Linked DNA regions of Homo sapiens: region 2 is linked to region 1. Evidence: fine-mapped expression QTL. A gene starts in region 1. The other region holds a variant in brackets. All regions are shown on one strand. Distances are from middle to middle. Region 1 holds the start of SUCLG2-DT (SUCLG2 divergent transcript). Region 2 overlaps TAFA1 (TAFA chemokine like family member 1).

The links. PIP is the estimated chance that this variant, and not a neighbour inherited with it, causes the effect.
Region 2: its variant is fine-mapped to the expression of SUCLG2-DT in subcutaneous fat (FUSION, PIP 0.95).

The regions. Positions count from the first base shown.
Region 1 is chr3:67,649,272-67,660,859 of GRCh38, reverse strand. It overlaps SUCLG2-DT (SUCLG2 divergent transcript), which reads right to left and starts at 6,163. Exons shown (of 7, transcript NR_109992.1): 1 at 5,758-6,163. SUCLG2 (succinate-CoA ligase GDP-forming subunit beta) reads left to right here and starts at 6,248. Exons shown (of 11, transcript NM_003848.4): 1 at 6,248-6,357. The coding sequence starts at 6,274. RefSeq lists enhancers at 5,942-6,441, 10,076-10,125 and a silencer at 5,957-6,636.
Region 2 is chr3:68,173,348-68,184,935 of GRCh38, reverse strand. The region is part of intron 2 of TAFA1 (TAFA chemokine like family member 1); the gene reads right to left. Among named protein-coding and RNA genes, the nearest start is that of TAFA1, 170 kb to the right of the region's middle. The variant A/TAATAATAATAATAAA (reference allele first, on the strand shown) is at 4,924.

The DNA of each region.
Region 1 (11,588 bases):
GTATTTTTTACTTGTATCATTTTTTATTATTGTTATTTTTTATTTTTTCCCCAGAATATTTTCAATCTGCAGTTGGTTGAATCATAGATGTGGAACCCACAGATACAGAGGACCGTCATTTAAATAAAGCTGCTGAGAAATACCATCAAAATTAATCATTTTAACGCATTATTGAAGAGGGAAAAATAACTTGAGCACAATGACCATTCTTTCTGTGCCACTGGCAAACAATACAACTGAATCACTGGTTAAAATGGCTATCACAAATAGCAACAGTGATATTACCTATGCATACAATGAAAGACCAAAAAGTTTAGTCTCCTGTAAATTCCAGAAATCTGTTATCCATTAAAAAATTAACCAGATGAAATCCACAGATGCCCTTTATTTCATCATTGTAATAGTGATTTTCATTCTTGACATGCAGCAGTATGAACTCAAATATGTAATTCATGAAAATTAGGGTTGTTTCTTAAAATATTCTATTCAGCTCTGCTGGTTACAATTAGTATTTGTCAAACAGTTTTTATGCTCAAGTGAAAAGGTAATGATAAAACACCACCAGAACTGCTAGATGCAGTATCCCTTTGCTGGGTTTCATGATATGTCTCTCTGGTAAATCTGCGCCCCTAGAGTAATCAGTGCGAATATGAAAATGAGCACATTATTTCACTGTTAACAGGCACTGCTAAGATGAAAGCGAAGGCATATAGGCCTGCTGATGTTTTTATTTTTCTTTTTGCAACAATTAACTGAATAAGAAACAGTATAGCCAAGGTGCTAGAAATACAAAGCTTAATCGTAGAGTTTTACAACTTCATATTTCAAATGCATGCAGTTTATGAGAAGTGTTACACTGTCAACTCACAGCTCAAATAAGATGTCATACTTGACCTTCATTTTACTAATAGGAAAACTGAGGTTCACAGATGTAAATACTAAAGAAATAAACACACGAAAAAGAGTTCTTAGTCAAATAATGAAGGTATGGTAGGTAACAGCCACTGGGATCTCAAGTGTTTGAGGATGCATCTCATTGGCAAAATAGGTACTATCATAATCCCCTTTCCACAGATCAAGGAATTGAGATTGTTAAGTAACTGGTCCAGGGTCATGGAGCTTTTAAATCACAGAGTCAACACTTGCAATGTCTACCTCTGTGCTTCAGTCTGATATCAGAGTGCAGAATGCTTTCAATAGTGCTATTGCCTATGGCCATAGTTACTGTTCAAGCAGTTCACAATTGCCATTTTGACACAGCAAAAGCGTAGAATAGCTGTTCATTCACCTTAAGCCAATGCTTCTACATGTCGCAGCCGATTTAGACCACGGGTAGAAAATGGGTCTGGTACCAGGTGTCAAGGCTCTCTGAAAGCACCAGTCATCATCTCCATCTATGATTTATCAACTTTTTGTCCTATATTTAGGAACCAAATGGGGGATAGCAGAGTAACTCGTCTTTGGATTCACCAGGAAACATCTTCAGAGTTCACCACTATGGTTTGCTTTGTTTGCTTTTTTAGTTCTCAAACTAAAGAACACTTTGGAAAGATTATTTAAAATGCAGGTCCCAGTCTCCATCCTAAGTGATTCTGATTTCATGAGTATGAGGTGGAGACCAGGAATCTGAATATTTGAAACTCTAAAACAAAATGTAATGGTTCCTTGACCACTACTCTCTATCCTCTTCTTGGAGGCAACCACTTTAGACTCTTAATACTTTTGTCTGGCATTTGTACATCTCTGTAATTCTCCAGTGCTATCAAGATAAATTACAAAGTGTCAGGGGTCTCCTAACCTACATCTCAGATTGGCCCTAGTGTTTCACATTTGATATCAAGCAAATATTTGTTATGGACCCACTAGAGGAAGAAAAAGAACATCTATGAAGTCTTTACTATGTGCAAGGTCTTTACATGCAACATCTGATCATTGACTACTTACTACTACCCTATGAACCAGGTATTTTCCTAGTCACAGGTGTTCAAGGGGGTGGAGGTCAGATTTGAATCCAATCCAGTTTGGCTGAAAACTTAATGCTTGTTCCAGGAAAGCACAGTGCAGAACTCTGGTAGAATCTAGATTCCCTGTTCTCAAAGAGATTCCTATTTGGGGGAGGTTGGAGGGTGGAAGCGGGGAGTATGAAATAGGGAGAAATCTTACGAGGAACTCTATAATGCAATTCATTCCACATATGTTTATTGATTACTTTTTCTAATCAAAGTCCAGTGCTAGACACTGGAGGTGCTACATAAATGGTTCTCTTTCTTCCTTCTGTCCCTTCTCCCCTACCACCTTCCTGCAGAGAAGGCAGAATGAGATAATACGAGTAAAGACACTGAGGAATTGCTGATGAAAGATTTGGACCCCAGAACCAAGGATGAGACAGTCTTCCAATTCAGACAGGAAAACTCTTAGGAGGCTGCTAACCCTGGAAAGACCCCAAGTTACGCACCAGTAGATAGTAAACAAATCAAAGAATACCAAATGTACTTGGATGACAATCAGAAAGCCTCTCCCGACTCCACTTTCAAAAATCCCCCCATAATAGAATAATCGCATCTTAAAAGAACACTCATCAATCAAAGACAGTCTTAAGAGTCTCTCCTTTATCTCTATAAAACTAACACTTCTTTCAAACGACTTCTAGTCTCATTTGGAAGGAAAGTGATAGTAGCCAACTCCCTTAGCATAGTAACGTCTGAATAAACAGCCTTTGATTAATTCTATAGGTGGTCTTCCTCCTTTTGGCAAAATGTTCACAAGCTCTCACCAAGTTTAAACGTTCACTCTCAAACATTAGCAAGTCTTTGCTCTATCCCGGCGGACCCAGTAGGGGTAATGATGAACAATATGGAAACTCAAATCCAGTTTTGTCAAGAGGAGGGTGCTAAGAGTGATTGGAGTCCAGCTTTGGGAAATTTGATCCCAAGCTGTGTCACCCTTGGCAAGTTACTTGACCTTAGAGTCATGTAAATGTCATGTGGAACTCTGTGGCCAAGTTTCTCTCTGGCAAAATGGGAATAATAGTAGGACCCCATTTGCAGGGCTCCTGTGAAGATTAAATGACTGAAAACAGAGGCAGCAGAGTGTATGTATCAGGAAAGAGCATCGGTTTGCCATTTAATAAAAAAGAATCCATGAGTCCACAGTGATACAAGTGAATAAAACAATTCACCGACGAATAGTGTTACAGTGAACTAAATATGGCCTAAGGAGGACTCGGTACTTCTATATTTGAGTCCTTGTGGACGAACTGCAACCTAGCTTAATAGGTAGACAAGATTGAAAACCTAACTTAGAAGTATGGACCTAAAACAACAGCTAAGTCTTGGCAATCCCAGTGGCCATATTTTAACCATTTATACATTGCTGAGTGTTCAAACTGTGTAAGGCAAATGCCAAGCTGTAACCAATCCAGCTGTTCTGTACCTCACTTCTGATTTCTGTAAGTCATTTCCCTTTTTTCCTCTATAAATCTTCTTCCACCACGTGGCTGCGCTGGAGTCTCTGTGAATCCACTGTGATTCTGGGAGCTGCCCGATTGGCGAACCGTTCATTGCTCAATTAAACTCCTTTACATTTAATTTAGCTGAAGTTTTTCTTTCATCAATGGAGATGATGGAAAGAGTGCAGTTTTTCTGAGTAGAATACAGACTAATAAATGTAGGATGGAGTTAGACCTTGCCACTTTGCCACCATCGTGACAATAATTGATTTAAACAATCATCATCATCCTTATCATCAAAAGATGCTACATCTAGTGGGTAAAACTATGTCTCGAAATGGGCTAGAAATTATATTAAAATAAAAATCCTCAGCTCCCCCACTTTCCAAAGAGAGAGATTAGGAAAGAAGCTAGTAGCAACAGCTGTCTACTTATGTCACATTGTACCTTTTTTCATGATCATATGCTCAAGAATGAGTAAGGTTAAAAAAAAAAATCTAAAATAGTGCTTAATTTGGGGGTGGGTGGAAGGGATGTGAATCTCATCTCTTATCAGACCTGCCACCTCTGGCAAGTTACTTAACCTCTGTGCACCTCAGTTTTCTCTTCTGCAAAATGGGGATTGTACACTTCTACTCATTTAAAACTTTGCTATGAAGACTAAACAAGTTTATATTTGTCTAATGCTTGGCACACATTCAGTAACTTTGCTGTTGTTTTTATTATATGCACATTGCTTAGACTCGCGTAAACTCTGTGAAAGGGAAATAATCTTGGGACTCCCAAATCACTAAGGTAAAGGGAAAAGTTAAGGTGGGAACTGCTTAGGGCAAACCTGCCTCCCATTCTATTCAAAGTCATCCCTCTGCTCACAGAGATAGACGCACAGCTGATTGCTTCCTTTGGAAAGGCCAATCAGAAACCCAAAAGAATGCAACCCTTTGTGTCTTATCTACCCATAACCTAGAAGCCCCTCCTTGCTTCCAGTTGTCTCGCTTTTCTGGACCAAACCAATGTACATTTTACATATATTGATGTCTCATATCTCCCTAAAATGTATAAAACCAAGCTGTGTCCTCCACCACACCTTGGGCACATGTCAGGACCTCCTGAGGCTGTGTCACAGGCACGTGTCCTTAACTGTGGCCAAATAAACTTCTTAAATTGATTGAGACCTGTGTCAGGTATTTGGGGTTCACAGCTCCAAATGAATGTTGCTTTTATCACTCTGATTACTGGGCTTAAAATCCTCCAATAGCTTTGTGTCCGGAATTGGTTCCTTCCCGTGGGTTCTTAATCGTCTCGCTGACTTCCAGAATGAAACTGCAGACCCTCGCGGTAAAGATGGCGTGACCAGAATTTGTTCCTGCAGATGTTCAAATGTATCTGGGGTTTCTTCCTTCCGGTGGGTTCGTGGTCTCGCTGACTTCAGGAGTGAAGCCGCAGACTTCACAGTGAGTGTTACAGCTCTTAAAGGTGGCCCGTCCGGAGTTGTTTGTTCCTGCCTGTGGGTTCGTGGTCTCGCTGACTTCACGAATGAAGCTGCAGACCTTTGCAGTGAGTGTTACAGCCCTCGAAGGTGGGGCATACGGAGTTGTTCATTCCTCCCAGTGGGTTCGCAGTCTCCCTGACCTCAGGAGTGAAACTGCAAACCTTTGTGGTGAGTGTTATAGCTCATAAGGATAGTGCGGACCCAAACAGTGAACAGCAGCAAGAGCTACTGCAAAAAGCAAAAGCACAAAGCAACCACAACCTGGAAGGAGACCCCAACTAGGGGCCACTACTGGCGCCGGTGTCCAGCTTTTATTCCCTTATTTGGCCCCACCCTCATCCTGCTGATTGGTCCATTTTACAGAGTGCCAATTGGTCCATTTTACAGAGTGCTGATTGGTCCCTTTTTAAAGAGTGCTGATTGGTGCATTTACAAACGTTTAGCTAGACACAGAGCGCTGATTGGTGCGTTTTTACAGAGTGCCGATTGGTGTGTTTACAAACCTTTAGCCAGACACAGAGCACTGATTGGTGCATTTACAATCCTTTAGCTAACAGAAAAGTTCTCCAAGTCCCCACCTGATTAGCTAGACACAGAGGGCTGGCTGGTGTATTTACAAACCTTTAGCTAGACACAGAGCGCTGATTGGTGCATTTACAATCATTTAGCTAGACAGAGAAGTTCTCCAAGTCCCCAACCGACCCACCCGGCTTCATCTCTCAGCTTTACATTGATTTTAGGTTAAGGATAGAACAAAACAAAACACCCACAACTCCTTAAGGGATGGAGAGCCTCCAATGGCCTCTCCTTGACTCACCTGAAGCCCTGGGCTGCAGGAACCTCACCTGTCTCTATTCGTTAAAGTCTCAGCTCAAACACCACTGTCCCAGATAGGCCTCGTGACCGCAGGACTAGACCACGGTTCTCTGCGGAGGGCGTCAGCTCCGTGAGCCACCCTTCCAGCACCCACTGCCATGGCGAATATTTGCTTGTTTGGCCATCCAGGGACTGTTTGAGCCCCAAGACCGCAGGGCTCGGGGTCTGTCTTTGCTCAGGACGATAACCTGGGGACTGGACAGTAGGCCCTCAGGCCTTGGGACCGCTCAAAGTGAACCGGGGCCGGGTGGGGGACCCAGGGCTCTGCAGCCTTAAGAACGCCTGTGCCCCCGGGACGCAGGGGTCAGGCCCGGCCCGGCCCAGACCGCCTCTGCCTCCTCCTCCTTTTCCTCCCCGCGCCCGCTTCTCCTCTGACCCCTCCTCCCGCTGCTCCTCCTCCGCCTCCTTCCCCTGCCCGCGCCCGCCCTACTGCCCCGTGCCGAGTTTCCTGTTTAAGATGGCGTCCCCCGTAGCAGCGCAGGCCGGGAAGCTTCTGCGAGCCCTAGCGCTGCGGCCCCGCTTCCTGGCGGCCGGGTCCCAGGTGAGCGTGGGGGCAGGAGCTGCGGGCGCCAGCAGCGGCGCCGGCCTGCCCGGGCTTCCCTCGCCCCCTGCTACTCTTGGTCTCCGCCTGACCCCCTGCGCGGCCCCTCGGGCGCCCCACTTCGGGAGGTGACGCGGCGCCGGGTCCAGGCGCAGCAGGGAACCCCGCTCCAGTGTGGGGCAGGGGCGGCGCGGCGGCAGCCCCGGGTGCCTCGGGGTATGAGCGACCCAACGCACTAGAGTCTCCGCTGTCTGCCCGCGCAGACTCATGGCGAAGGCGCTGAAGCAGGCGCTGGACGCAAGTTTAAGAAAAGTTTCTTGGACCGGGTTTTGGAGCCCTGAGGTTTTATTGTCAGCTCTACTAATTCTGCTTTTCAAACTTCTGGCACTAACCCTGAGCACGTTTAGACCACGTGATAAACATGCCTGGAAACCCGTTTCAGCCCAACTAGGAACTCACCCCCTAGGGTGAACTTCCTGCAGGCTACCTGCTTTTGCAGACTTTTAATGTGCCTGAGTTGGTCAAATCCGTGGGTCAAGGAGAAAAATGGGAAACGATCTTTCTCCTCTTTCCAATGAAAAATCAGGGCTGTCACTAAAACGCATTAGACCATTGACCCTGTCCATGTCCTCCTTGTTGATGGAGAATGAAATCAAAGAGGGTCAGTGGTGGGCTGGATAGCGATTGGAACTTGGCCTCTAGCAGATTTTTACCTTCTGCAGATGGCAAGCGTTAAAATAGTCAGAAGGACTTCAGGAAAGTTTTGAGTTGGTGATGACTCTTGTAGAAATCACTCAACCACTGAACTGGTTAGTCTCCGTAGACTATCTCTCTTCCCTTTTAAAGAAAGCACAGTCTGGGATTCAGCCACAGCAGAGTTAATGACCTTGCCTATTTCCCCATTTTTAATTGATGAGAGGCAAATTATCACTCATACAATTTTAACCAGGATGTGCATAGTATAGTTTTTTAGAAAATTTAAAAAATAGTGATTAATGATTTTTTGAGTTCCTCTAAACTTTGGTTATGACATCTGTGAGCTATTTTTACCCCTCTCCTTTCATTTCCTGCCTCCCCATTTCTCTGTTATTGTTAATGTAAATTTAAAAGGTGCTAATACTTACTACTGTAATATTCTTAATAGGTGCTTGACAGTATAGTGAGGTAGCAAAAGGAATGGCAGTTTTGTCTAATTAAAACTCACTAATAACTGTTGTAATAGAGTAAGGAGAATAGCTCTAGGAGATGAAGTCCTATTCATTATTTAAGTGTTAGAAAAAACAAGAACTAGGGTGCTTACCATGAGTGTAGACTTGAATTGATGAGAAACATGGGGCCCAGGGCAGTGAAAACTCATGAATTGTACAGAGAAACTGAAAATGCAGAGTGTTTAGCTGAAATATGTGAAGCCTACTTCCCTAACCAAGAAATAAGAGGCTGAACGCAACACAGGAGAAAATCTGGTTGGGGAGAGATACTCTTGGTTTGTCAAGAAAACTGGGTAAAAAGATCTGTTAGCACGCCCCATCTGGTTACTGTGATTTACATATTTGTGGATGATGTGTTTTTCTGTAAATTCTTAGAAGGTAAAAGTAGGTTTTTTTAAAGATAGAAAGGTACACAGTGTCCAAGAACTGGAAATGGACATTAGCAATCATTTAGTCCAGCCAGCTCATTTCATGGGTAGAGAAATTGAGGCCTAAAGAAGTTCAATGACATATTCAACGATACAGTGAGAGTTTGTGGCATTCCAGAGTAAAGGCTTACCTTTACGTTTCCGTTACACCATGCTGTTTCCTGGTGAGTATATACTTCCTCATGAAAATATATTATATCAACATGCAAATTAATCTGCATGCCAGTAGTAACTATATAACATCCAAGTCATTAGCACCACTGACACATTTTTATTTTTTTCTTTATGACCATCTTAGAATTGTCCATAAAAATGGTGAGTATTGCTATTTTCAAATTCTTGGGTGCTTCCTATGATCTGTTTCATGTACACTGATTTGATATTACGTTTCCATAGTCCCTTGCCCGTGGCAGACATTGCAGTTAAACATGGCCCACTTCTCTCATCATACTTAAGAATCCTCACCAAGTGTCTCAGAAATCTGTTGCCACTCTTGGCCCAGACCTATTTTATACCACCAGGCCTTGTGAAAAACTGTTGTCTGTACAGAAATAAAAGACCCAGTTTCTGCTTAGAGAAATAACTTTAACTGGTCTCTCAAAGATACCCATAGAATGACATTTTGTCTACCTCCTCCCTATGGTTAAATTTAACATTTGACACATATTCCTGATGCTTAGTGTCATTGAAGTTTTTTTTTTTTTTTCACCTTTGCTGTTAGCTTTACTGTTTTGACTTTTGATTGATAGTACGTCCTTAAAGGGTCCACTTTAGTCATTTCTTATTTTTCATATAGTTTTTATTCAGCCCATACCATTTGGCAGGACTGTTGTAGGCCCTGGGGTTTGGGGATGGTGAATGAGGCAGGCAGAGTCTTTGGCCACGTGATACTTTATTTTAATGGAGGTGGGAGAGAGTGAGCCAGTACACATATAACCAATAATGAAAATGATTTCAGCCAATGACAGATTCTGTGAAGAAAATCAGTCAGGGTCATGGGATGGAGAATGGATTGCTTCACAGCAGGGTAGTTTAGACTGGATGATCAGAGGAGACCTATTTGATATGGTGTGTTTTTGATTGGCATAATTTTTTAAACTGAAATATAAGACATACTGAAAAATGAACAATTACAAATGAACAACTTGATGAATTTTCATAAACTGAATGCAAACCCAGCTAACTAGGTACAGATGAAGAAAACGATCATTTAACAACAACCCAGAGGCCCCCTGGTGCTCCTGCCTGTCACTACCTCCACCCTACAAAGGGTCACCAGTCCCCTGACTTATAACGCTGGTTTTGTTCAGTTTTGTACTTTAGGTGAAATTATATGTAGGCATACACATACTTCACATTGCTCAGCATTATATGTAAGTGATCCTGGAGATGGCCTTTTTGACATATGAGCTGAGACCTGAGCGATGAAAGGTAGCCAGCTAGGTGAGACTAAGGGGAAGAGTGTGTTAGGCAGAGCAGACAGCAAGTGCAAAGACTGAGATGAGAATGAGCTGGGCATGTCTAGGTAATTAGAGGGGGAAAGTGGTAGTAGACTAGGTCTGAGAGGAAGACAAGGGCCAAATCATGTGGAGACCTGCAGGGTCTGCTAAGGAGGTTTCAGGGGTTTAAACCATACAGAGGCTGAATCCCAGTCCTGGCAGCCAAAGCACAGGCATGTAATTAATGTACTGTACACGCCCCCTGTTATAAATCTAAGTTAGGCTGGCTTTGAAACTTTTAGCAGAGTGGTGTTCAGTGAATTTAGCAGTAAGGGTCTAACCATGGTTAGAAGTCTTTCCAAAGACCTAAATCCTGGTAGACAGGGGCCATGTTGCTGTGTCCATATAGCCAAGTGAAAAGTGTGTGCAGTACTTGGTGGTGTAATATAGCCAGGCACTGCCATGGTGGGCAAGATATGAGTACATACTGCCAGTCAAGTCTTAGGGGAAATGTTGGCTGAGGGCACTGAGTTTGAAATGGTTCTTAAGTCTAAGCACAGTTTTGTTGTCTCTTAGGGTATTTCCCCTCTCTTTGGCTAGTGGAAGTTCATGGAGCTCTCTTGTAGGAGAAGCACTGCCTTTCAGGTCTCCAATTTTATTTTACTTTTTTTTTGAAAGAGAGTCTCACTCTCACCCAGGCTGGAGTGCGGTGGCCTGATCTTGGCTCACTACAACCTCCTCCTCCTGGGTACAAGCGATTCTCCTGCCTCGGCTTCCTGAGTAGCTGGTACCACAGATGCACGCCACCATGCCTGGCTGATTTTTGTATTTTTAGTAGAGATGGGGTTTCGCCATGTTGGTCAGGTTTGTCTCAAACTCCTGACCTCAAGTGATCTGCCCCCTTCAGCCTCCCAAAGTGTTGGGATTACAGATGTGGGCCACTGTGCCTGGCCAGGCCTCCTATTTTAGAATCCTTGTTGTATGTTTTCTGTGCAGCCCAGAGCTTCTGTCCAGGGACTTACAGAGGAATGTATGTTGTCAAAGAAACTGCTTAAACCCATGCCCCTGCTGTTGTATACTCAGAAAGAATGGCTCCAGCCTAATTTTCTGCCTTTACGGAAGTGGGAGGAGAAAGATGAATGCATGACTTTTGTAAGTGAAGGACTAAAGGTTATGGGCAAGTTCTTATCAGCTAAATGAGGCTGTGGCGGCTGCATTGGAAGTTGTGACTTACCTGTATCTCCCTCTTGCCTAGGAGAATAAATATTTGACTTTTTTCTTTTTTTAAAATGAAGTACAGCTGCAATTTCTGCTTTTAGAAAAGGGAATCCATCTCAAATAATTTAGATGCTAAACTATTGACCTTCCTTGTGGGGAAGACCGTTAAGTGATAGCTTTGTCCTAAATTGGTTTTGTTTGCTGTAAATAAGGCATTTCTTTTATGGGTGAGTGATTGAGTGCACAGACCCACAGTAGTGAGAACATTCCTGCCCTCGTACCCTGGTCTAGTTCTGCAGGCGCAAAGCCCAGAAAGTCACTGAAATATGGCATATTTGGGGGAGGAAAAGAAATTACATAAGTAACCTCAGATCATTTGTCCTTCAGCTGTCTTTACCACTCAATCTGCAATTGTCACTTGATGCATCACTTTCTGTTACTTGATGGAAAAGTTTTACTGAAGAACTTGAGAGATTTGGAAATATTTGAACAAATGATAATATCAGTACACTAATGAAATTTGGAGATTAATCTTGAGAGTTTGTGAGGAAGGTGGAGGTGATGAAGAAGGCAGTCCAGGTGAATTCATGCAGAGGCAGAGGTGAGAGAACAGGGGGAGAGTAGTTGTAGTGAGCAGTTTAGTATGGAGAAGGGAGAGGTGGATAGCAGAAGTTGAGGGACAATGGCACTTTTGGGTATACAAAGAAGTCTAAATGGGGCTTCAGAAAGCCCAGAATTCAGCAGGGAATAAAATTAACCCCCACAACTGAAAAATCAAACAAATATCATTTATGTAGCAAATATTTTCTGAATGCTTATTACAGCTCATTCTTTATAGAATGTTGGGCAGATAAATATGACTGAGTGAATGCAGACAGGAATAAGAAACACAGCTCCTACCTTCAGAGGGCACAGAGGTACAACTGGCCTATAAACCT
Region 2 (11,588 bases), 520 kb before region 1:
AGTGAAGGATGTAGAAAAACATCCCGGGTGTTTTTGCAGAACACACTTTCCCATGTCTCAGCCCATAGGAATCTGCTTCATCACATTGGGTTGAAGAGTGAACATTTTTAACAAGTAAAATGGTGGTCCACAGGCCACTATGAAAAATATTAAATCTATACATATGGCAGTCAACATTCTTTGGGCCTGATATCTTTCTTTCTCTAGAGCAATTTCACATGAGTGAGTAGTTAACCTTTGCTCATTTAATCAAACCTAATATTCGTTCAACACCTGTTTTTGTTAGCAAATGGGAGCTTTCGTGTTCCCAGTATATATTGGAGCTAATCAATAGTCCTGCTTTAGGGATAGAAGAGACATGCCAAAAATTACCTATGTAGCATTTCAGACTGTTTTCAGGGGCAAAAAATAATAATTTTTATCCTTATAGAGAATAAAAATCAGCTCTCTTTCTTTTGCTTTCACACACACACATGCACACAGTGCTTATCATCATAAATGTAGAAAATATGTTGGTATACCTTCTAGCCACAGTGTTTCCAAATACAGACTCTAATAATTTTCTAAGCCTCCAGCCCTGCAAGGTTTATCAAACCTGATATTTGCTTTCAGGTAGGACTTAGAATGCTTTGAAATCGCTGTCATGTAACTTGTGGAGGTGATCTATTTCATTACCGTATCCATCCTCTGTCAATCATCTGAATTATCATAAATGTTAGTGTCAACCTAATCATTTGATTCCTTATTCACGGAAATTCGCAGAAAATTTCAGGGAGAATACAGCATGTATGACACTTTTTGATGTCCAGTTCCTCTCTGAGGCATATGAATGTAAAGTGTCATATCGCTATCCTGGAGAAAAGCAGCTTAATGTTAGTGTTTGGATAAGACATTTGAGTTTTTTGTTCAGGTTACAGATTAGGAACAATTACATTAAATCGTAATGAAGGGGAATATCTTTTTGAATATATTAGCTTTGCATTACAGAAGACCAAGGTTAGCTTACATCCCTCACTGTGGTTATCTCTGAAGCACATGGCATTATATAGTACACATCTGTGCATTCATTTTCCCTGACATGTTAACTACAGTTACTACTGTTTTGTATGCATCAATTCCCATTCTCAGAGCAAAATGAGAACTATAGAACTGACTCTGATCTAAATAGAATGTGCTTAGGAGCAAATATGCTATCACAATCCCTTGTATTACCAAAGTGGGTTGGAAATCACCACACAGGTAATGAAAGAATGAACAGTCCCTAAATTCAAAAGTGATGCATGAACAAAATTCTGTGTTTCAATTAGACTGCATAAGCTGTGAAATGATCCAATAACCTTCTCACTGTTGAGGGCAGCTAATAAATAATAAGAAAAGATATACAGGATCCAACAGTCTTCTGATCATAATAGTTCCAATCAAAGTCTTTATTGCATCAAAAATATACTTTGTCTTAAAATGGGAACTTCATCAAGCTATTAATATGCACCTCACTTTTATACCTCACTAAAGACAATGTATCTGAAACATAATAAGTTGCTAGAGTGTTCCAATGTATGACAATGCATGACTTCTGGTTCCTTATTTCCTGATGTTATGACATTGCTGTCCAATCATGGGGCATAATGAGGAGCTCGAGATCTTATATTATCACTTAATGAAGTCCAATTAAGAATCATTAACCTTTGCTCCACTTCTCATACTTGATGCACAATAAGTGGTCCTGGGATAACTTTAAAAGGTGAACTTGGGCAAAACTAGTCAATGGATCTTTTGAAGAATTAAAGCCCTCTCAAACCACCATTTCACCCAAAGCGATGGGGCAGGTATACTATTGATTGATGATAAAACTACACACATACTGCTCAGGTCAAATGTATTGAGTAGTGCAAGAATTTTCTGATAGGATAATTATTTGGGAGGGTTGGTTGAACCAACTGAAATAAAGATACATGACTTTGATGATTTGTTTCAACATTTTATCTATGAACCTCTGGAACCTAGACACAAATTATATTTCTTTTTATTATATTTTCAATGCAATCCAACCTATTCTTATCACCACCATATGCATAAAATATAAACAGCATCCATAAAACATGACATTATCACTAAATAATAAACTAAATTGGCTGAAATTGCTAATAAATGTGTATAGTGCATAAAGCAATATGTTTTACGTAGGGTTTACAAGAATGCAAGGTTTATATACAGAAATGACTTAAGGGCTGTAAGACATTATGTTAAAACTCACATTAAAATGTGTGTATGTTGACAAGTACTTTAAAAGAGTGTTGTGCATTAAGTACTTTAAAGGGGTGTTGGATGTTGTTCATGTTAATGTGATAAATTCAGTATTCTATAGGATCAGATAAATTAGTAATAACAACAGTACCAATTGAAGCAATAACCTGGTACAATAATTTCTAATTCCCATTTCTGATATTTGGATGTTAAACTGTTAGTAGTTTTGAATGAAATACTACTGCATTGTATGTAAATGTCACCACCCCAGAAGCTGACGGCACCATGCATCACACTATACATCTCATTCATTTGTATCTCCATACTGAGCACAATACACAGTACAACACTGGGGCTTTTACAAAGCTTGCTGAATAAAGAAATGAATAGTATCCAATTTTCCACCTGGTAATGTAATACTGAGAAATCCATTAAGGGTTACACAGTTTGTCTGTCTGTCTGTTTATGAATTCATTTATGTTTGAGACAGGGTCTCACTCTGTCACCCAGGCTGGAGTACAGTGGTTTAATCATGACTCACTGCAGCCTTGACCTCCTGGGATCAAGTGATCTTCTTGCCTCAGCCTCACCAGTAGCTAAGACTGCAAGCGTGTGCCACCCACACCCAGCTAATGTTTTTTGCTTTGTGTAGAGATGGGGTCTCACTATGTTGCCCAGGCTGGTCTCAAGCTCCCCAGCTCAAGTGATCCTCCTGCCTTAGCCTCCCGAAGTGCTGGGATTACAGGCATGAACTACCATCCCCAGCCTGTAAACTGTATTTATCATATAGTTTAAAAGTAAGGAATGACATCCAGATCTTTGAGACAATGTTTTAGCTCTGCTCTGCTTCTTTCATAACTTAGATTTCACCCTATTTTACAGATGAAAGTGTTGCAACCTCCACTCTTTTCCTTTCGATGTGTGCTGAGAGAGCCCACAACAGATGTCTAAGCCATTTCCAGTCATCTCCATTAGGAGTCTAGTATTCTGGGAACTTGTCTTGATCAATAGTTTCTAACATTTTTGTATCTAAGACATACTTTAGATAATCAGAATATTTGGAACCACATATGAAGGGAATTTTTAAAAGATAAATCTAAACAGTGCATAAAAAATAATAATTACCCTATTAGCAACATTATCAGTATAACAGTCTCTCATAACAGCTAACTCACCACTGGTTACCCTGAATTTACTTCATAGTTACTGAGTACCTCCAACATCAGTTATTAGACCAAAACTATATTCACTGGAACAGAAAAATTTACTGCCTTCACTTACATAATTCTAAGGAAGTTTTTTTTTTTTTTTTTGTATGTTCTAGTCAGTGCACCATCTTTCTCTGGAGTAAGGTATATTATTTACCTACTGTTGCATAACAAATTACTCTAAATTTCAGCAGCTTAAAACAAGACACAGTTTCTACAGATCAGGAGTTGGGGCACAATTTGGCTGGGTCCCCACTAGCCAGCCCCACCTGACTGAGTCTCTCACCAGGCTGCAATCAAGATGACAGCAACAGTTATGGTCTCATCTCAAAGCTTAACTGGAGAAGGATCTACTCACTCATGTGCTTGTTGGCAGGGTTCAGTTCCTTGTAGTTTGTTGGACCAAGGGCCCAAGGTTTTTGCTGACCGTTGGCCAAAGGTGGCCTTCTCGTCCGTACTTTGTGTGTTTATGCAGCATTGCAGCTTGTTTCATGAAAACCAGCTAGGCTAGAGAAGGGAAGACCAAGAGTGCCAGCAAAATGGAAGTCACCACCTTTTATAACCCAATCTCAGAAGGCACATCACTTCGTTTTTGCTGTATTCTGTGGTTGTTTTTTCCAGAATAAAGTCACTAGGCCTAGCCCACACAGAGAGAGAGGGGATACAGAAGGGCATGAAAACTAGGAGGAGAGGATCATCAGGGGTCGTATTAGAAGCTGCCTACCACATAGGTGATGTTGCTATTCTGGTGACCACACACATAAAGGTCTGCAGAGGCCAGGGAAGAATTGTAAATGACTGAAACATGTCAGTTGCCAAGAAAAATAAGGGGTTGTAGGGACTGGGGCAAACTGGGAAGTATCTATCTTCTCTAGAAGGGGCAGACACTACTCACCTCCTACTGACTTTTGTCAACTGGCTCATTTTTCAAAAGAAACCATAAATCCCAGTATTTACGATAAATCATCTGAACTTCTTATGTTGGGACAATATGGGCTAATCAAACAAAAATTGCCTGCAGGTGTGATGCTGTTCTCGTTCAGTATCCTTTACCTCTTGTTACTAGCTATCTAGCTCCTCTGCCATTTCAGCTCACAATCTGAAAACCCAGCTCAACATGAGTCTGACATATATAAATAAAATAGGCTGGATGTGGTGGCTCACACTTGTAATCCTAGCACTCTGAGTGGCCAAAGCAGGTGGATAACCTGAGGTCGGGAGTTCGAGACCAGCCTGGCCAACATAGTGAAAGACTGTCTCTACTAAAAATACAAAAAAAAAAAATTAGCCAGGTGTGGTGGTGCACACCTGTAGTCCCAGCTACATTACATGGGAGGCTAAGGCAGAAGAATTACTTGAAACTGGGAGGTGGAGGTTGCAGTGAGCCCAGATGGTGCCACTGCACTCCAGCCTGGGTGACAGAGTAAGACTCCCTCTCAAATAATAATAATAATAATAATAATAATAATAA[A/TAATAATAATAATAAA]ATTATGTGTTATAGGCAGGAAAGAATCTTATGCAAGCGTCAAAATTTGGTGTACACTAGCTGATTTGTTCATAGAGTTTAAGCATAATTAATAATTTATTTGCATTCACACAAGCATACATACAAATAAATGGGGTCAGGTAAATGAAGGACAGATGGGAAGACTGTCCTCCCAAATTTCAGGAGCATGCATTCAAGCAAAGTCACCTTATTTGACAATCCAAAAGAAACTATTTTCTACTTCACATATCTATTATCCAATTCATTTATTTGATAATTAATAAGTGAAAAATTCTAGCATTGTGCGGTTACATCAAGAAGAGGCAGATTAGCTGATGTTACTTTGGAAACTTTACAAAGAAAACATTTTCAGTGTTCTCCAGGGCTGGAGTTGCAAACAAGAGGTTCTTTAATAAATCACTAGATAAGTGCTTGTTATTACATTATTATTTAATAATTTAGAAACACAAGGAGTACAGAAAAAGAAAACCCCTAGTTCAATTTTTACAACTTCATTTTCTTTAAAAATGCAGACCAATGTTAAAAGGAGGAAAAATGGAAAGATGAACAAAATGAGCAGGAACAACATGATCCAAATTTTAAAATCCTAATGAAGATCAGAATTCCACTTTCATTCTGTAATACTTGTGCACTTAAATTAAGTTCTGAAGGTCATTTAGTAATGTAGGGTTGTAAAGCCTAAAAATATTTTCTACATACAGAGGAAAGAAATCAAAGAAATATGCTGATCTGGTATATGTCCTAGAATTTTAAATTTTAAAAATGCCAAAAGTAGGGTTTCTGTTCAGGGAAGATGAGTTGACATAAAATATAGTTTTCCTGGAAGTAAGTTATAGCCTAATGAAATTATGAATGATGATGTGTGTTTCAAAATAGCAATTATGTAGTCTTGAGTGGTTCTGCTATAAAAAACTGCTCTTATTCATCAAATAAGTGTGTTCTTAGCACCACCTTCTCTCCTCCTTGATATGTTAACAGTAAAAACATACAATATCTCCGAGTTTATCACAGAATTCACTGGCTACAAAATAGCCCCAGACGTGTGTTTGGGGATTTCCCCTTTGATCCATAAGGAAGCTCAGAGAGATACTACTGACTTTCTTCAAGCCATTCTCCACCACCAGCTGGAAGCACCTCCTTAAACAGTGTACCTCAGTACATCATCTCTTCTAGGGATCTCACTATTCTCTAAATTGAATCTAAACTCCTTACGTGGATAACAAAGCTTTGTGCTACTTTGTCCATTTCTCCTTTTCCCAGCTAATCTCATTATTCTACCTTACCTTCCTTGTGGTCCAGCCAAGTAGCTGTCTTTCAGATCCTTGTGCATGCCAAGGTATTTCCGCCCCAGGGCATATATATCTGTTTCTCTTTTAGCCTGGAGTATCTTTCCTGAGCTTTTTTTCCAGCCTGTTTGTCAGTTAGGTAACAGTTTTATACATACCTCCTCCTGGATGCCTTCCCTGAACACTCTGAATTAATTCTCATACCCATCTCTCCATTATTAATTTCCATCTTAACCCCTTGCTTGCTTCATTCCTAACACCTATAAAAAATCATGATCATTTTACTTCTTTGATAACGTTTTTGGTCTGTTCCTTCCACTACAATATTAAATAATAAGAAAGGGATTATGCCAACCCTGCTCACTATTATTTCCAGCATTGAATCAGCATGTCTGGCACAGTGGAAGCAACTGATAAGTATGTGTTGTATGAGTGAATGAATGAGGAAATAGATGACAACTTGAAAATAAATTTTGGTTAGGCCATCACACAACATAATAAATAGTTACCATATACCAGGTATGGTGCTTTGCAGGGTCATGTATTTTTTTTTGGGGAGGGGGGGATGGAGTCTCGCACTCTCACCCAGGCTGGAGTGCAGTGGTGCCATCTTGGCTCACTGCAAGCTCCGCCTCCCAGGTTCACGCCATTCTCCTGCCTCAGCCTCCCGAGTAGCTGGGACTATAGGCGCCCACCACCACACCAGGCTAATTTTTTGTATTTTTAGTAGAGATGGGGTTTCACCATGTTAGCCAGGATGGTCTCGATCTGCTGACCTTGTGATCCGCCCACCTCGGACTCCCAAAGGGCTGGGATTACAGGCGTGAGCCACCATGCCCAGCCCAGGGTTAAGTTTTTAATTTGGTGACCATCCTCTGAAATATCTACTATTATTACCATCAGAGTTTAGAAGGAGAAACTGAAGGTCATGGGTATTAAGTCATTTGCCCAAAGACAAGACAGATTATAAAAGGAGTAGGAAGAGCATTTGAACTTGGTTCTGTCTTCCTCAAGACTTCCAGCTTGTAACTATTATATTCACCATTAATAGTTAAGCCCTTGTGGAAAATTAGGAGTTTCTAATTATTTAGATTGGGACTACACTTTAGATAACTGCCTAAAACTACATTTAAACTTGTACCCAAGATGACAATATATCTAATCACAAATTGAATATAATAGGAGCTTACTCCTATTATATTCCTGATTACTACAGCTAGAAGTCTCAGGATGACAAGTTTCTCTCTTCAAAAGAGCAAGGTAGTAGTAAAGAAGCTGAAGAAGCACAGAATTCCAGGACTTTTTTCATTAGTGAGGTTTTCTCTTTAGCCATGAGCTCTGTAGCTACATCTAAGAGAAGTCAAGTGTGAATCTCAGTTTTCTAAAAGAGCTGGTTCTAAACTTCTCTGATCATTAATGTTGATTTACCAATTAAATATCCCAGAGCAAATTCGAGGGAGCATGCCTTGGTGTCTACTTGGCAGAAATATGTGGGCAACTAAGGAATTCTCTGCGTCCTACTTTGATGAAATATGTTACCAATTCTGCCTAATTAGAATTACTCCTTTTCTCTTTTAATTGCATCCCTATGCATATTTGTCCTCATTCATAGAATATAAACAGTTGACACCATCTGAGTTTCTGTAATATTTACAGTTTCAGTAAGGTCTATGAAGACTTCGGTGAAAATACCAGTTCTCGATGATCACCAGTCTATAAAACATCTTAATTCAAATGCCACCAAGAACCAGATGAGCAATATAGTGAATCATAAACAACTGAATCAATTTCCCCCCACATTCCTCCCAGAACTAGTAAACAATCTACTCCCAGGTTGAGCTTTTGTGCTGAGTTTCATCCCAGAATACAACTTTACAATGGAGTTTTAAGCCCCAAAATTGCTGATGTAGCCTTAATTATAGCTATGCTGGTGACACCATTCTAATGAACTCTTTGCTATTTTATGTGGCCTGGGTGTCCCAGGAGGGGCATTGTCTAAACGAACAAACACATTGGTCAGGGTTTAGTGGGAATAGAGAAGTGGTAAATATGTATGTGTATGTGCATGCAACATGAATTATGCAAATTTTAATGAGTATGATATCAAAATGGTAATAGCACTTCCCACTATGGGAAGTATTTGAACTAATGCAAATCCTGTCAATTAAAAAGCTTCATCAAAATTATAGGGGAGACTAAATGATCTGTAAACTTTATTATTTACTTGGTGGAGTCTCACTCTGTCACCCAGGCTGGAGTGCAGTGGTGCAATCATAGCTCACTGTGAGGTGGAACTCCTGGGCTCAAGCAATCCTCTTGCCTCAGCCTCCCAAATAGCTAGGACCACAGGGACTTGACACCATGCTCACCTAGTTTTTTCAATTTTTGTAGAAACAGGGTCTCAATATGTTGCCCAGGCTTGTCTCAAACTCCTGGCCTCAAACAATTCTCCCACCTTGACCTCCCAATGTGCTGGAATTGTAGGCATGAGCCATGGCATCCTGCCTGTAAACTGTATTTATATTCATGTATTAGTCCATTTTCATGCTGCTGATAAAGACGTACCTGAGACTGGGAAGAAAAAAAGGTTCAATGAATGTACAGTTCCACATGGCTGGGGAGGTCTCACAATCATGGCAGAAGGGAAAGAGGAGCAACTCACATCTTATGTGGATGGTGCAGGCAAAGAAAAAGCTTGTGCAGGGATACTCCCATTTTAAAATCACCAGGTCTTGTGAGACATATTCACTATCACAAGAAAAACATGGGAAAGACCTGCCCTCATGATTCAGTTACCTCCCACTGGGTCCCTCCCACCACATGTGGGAATTCAAGATGATACTCGGGTGGGGACATAGCCAAGCCATATCATTCCACCCCTGGCCCCTCCCAAATCTCATGTTCTTACATTTCAAAAACAATCATGCCTTCCCAACCATCCCCCAAAGTCTTAACTCATTTCAGAATTAACTCAAAAGCCCACGGTCCAAAGTCTTATCTGAGACAAGGCAATTCCCTTCCACCTATGAGCCTGTAAAATCAAAAACAGGTAAGTTATTTTCTAGATACAGCAGGTAAACAGGCGTTGGGTAAATACAACCATTCCAAACGGGAGAGATTGGCCGAAACAAAGAGGCTACAGGCCCCATGCAAGCACAAAGTCCAGCAGGGCAGACGAATCTTAAAGCTCCAAAATGATCTCCTTTGAATCCATGTCTCACATGCAGGTCACACTGATGCAAGAGGTGGGTTCCCATAGTCTTGGACAACTCCGCCCTTGTGGTTGTGCAGGGTACAGACTTCCTCCTGGCTGCTTTCATGGGCTAGAATTGAGTGTCTGAGGCTTTTCCAGGTATATGGTGCAAGCTGTCAGTGGATCTACCATTCTGAGGTCTAGAGGACAGTGGCCCTCTTCTCACAGCTCCACTAGGCAGCGCCCCAGTAGGGACTCTGTGTTGGGGCTCCAACCTCACATTTCCCTTCCATACTGCCCTAGCAGAGGTTCTGCATGAGGGCCCTGCGCCTGCAGCAAACTTCTGCCTGGACATCCAGGTGTTTCCATACATCTACACTAGGAAATCTAGGCAGAGGTTCCCAAACCTTCATTCTTGATTTCTGTACACTTGCAAGCTCAGCACCTTGGGGAAGCTGCCAAGGCTTGAAGCTGGCATCCCCTGAAGCCATGACCTGAGCTCTTCATTGGCCCCTTTCAGCCATGGCTGGAGCAGCTGGGCTGCAGGGCACCAAGTCCCTAGGCTGCACACAGCATGGAGAACCCTGGGTTCAGCTCACTTTTTCCTCCTAGGCCTCTGGGCCTGTGATGGGAGGGGCAGCCATGAAGACCTCTGACATACCCTGGGGAGATTTTCCCCATTGTCTTAGGCAATAACATTGGGTTCCTTGTTACTTATGCAAATTTCTGCAGCAGGCTTGAATTTCTCCTCAGAAAATGGTATTTTCTTTTCTATCGCATTGTTAGGCTACAAATTTTCCAACTTTCATGCTCTGCTTCCCTTATAAAACTGAATGCCTTTAACAACACCCAAGTCACCTCTTGAATGCTTTGCTGCTTAGAAATTTCTTCCGCCAGATACACTAAATCATCTCTCTTAAGTTCAAAGTTCCACAAATGTCTAGGGCAGGGGCAAAATGCTGCCAGTCTCTGCTAAAACATAACAAATGTCACCTTTGCTCCAGTTCCCAACAAGTTCCTCATCTCCACCGGAGACCACCTCAGCCTGGACCTTATTGTTCATGTCACTATCAGCATTTTTGTCAAAGTCATTCAACAAGTCTCCAGGAAGTTCCAAACTTTCCCACATTTTTCTGTCTTCTTGGCGGCAGGAAAGACCTGCCCCCATGATTCAGTTACCTCCCACTGGGTCCCTCCTACAACATGTGGGACTCCAAGATGAGATCTGAGCAGGGACACAGCAAAACCATATCAATTTACTTATTTCCTCTATTGCGATGGACCACAATTATCTTTTAAACCAAAATACCAACCACCATTTTTCAGTTCCATGCAAACCAATGCTTTTCAAAATATAATGTGCCTATAAAGCACAATCCAGTTAAAATTCAGATTTTGATTCTGTAGATCTGGAATGGGGCCTTTTTTGCATTTCTCACAAACTGCTAGTCCATGTCATTGTTTATTTGGAATAAAACTTCTATAAGAGGTTTTAGTTATCATTGCACTGTTTTTATAACATTCAATAACCACTTTTAAAATATGTTGGGTGATAGATTCATGTCCCAAAATATGCATTTTCTTGCAAGTTAGAAATATATATTTTTTTAATTAAATATCCTATAACCCTGTTATTTGAGCATTGTTTAAGTGGCAGTTCTACTGCTGTTTCAAAAAACAAAATGCTTCTGAAAAAAACAATGACTTTAAAAATGAAGGGAAGGGAAGGGCTCTAAAAACACTATAAAGGAAGGCAAAAAACCAACACAATACACCATGTTGCCTATTTACAAGGATCCTGAGAAATATCAGAGTTAATACTGAGAAGACAATAAGCAATATGAGAGTGAAGACTTGTCGGTCTCCATGCCCCATTCTATAAATGTACTCTCATAGGAAAATAAGTCTTGAATTCTTCAAGTTTCTTAAGTGTTTGAAGTTTTTAAAATAGGCCCTTCATATAAATATATGTCCCCTTACATATTTAAAATCTAGAATTCCAATTCGTGTATGTGTGGCTGTATCACTGACATTTCATCAGACATAATGTCAAAGTTGTGAATCACACAAATCATTCAAGAGCCACTTTGCAAATACTTGAGTGGCAGCTCACACCCAGAAATGTATGTGTTTTCTGACAAGTTAGAGTTGTAATTCATCCATTA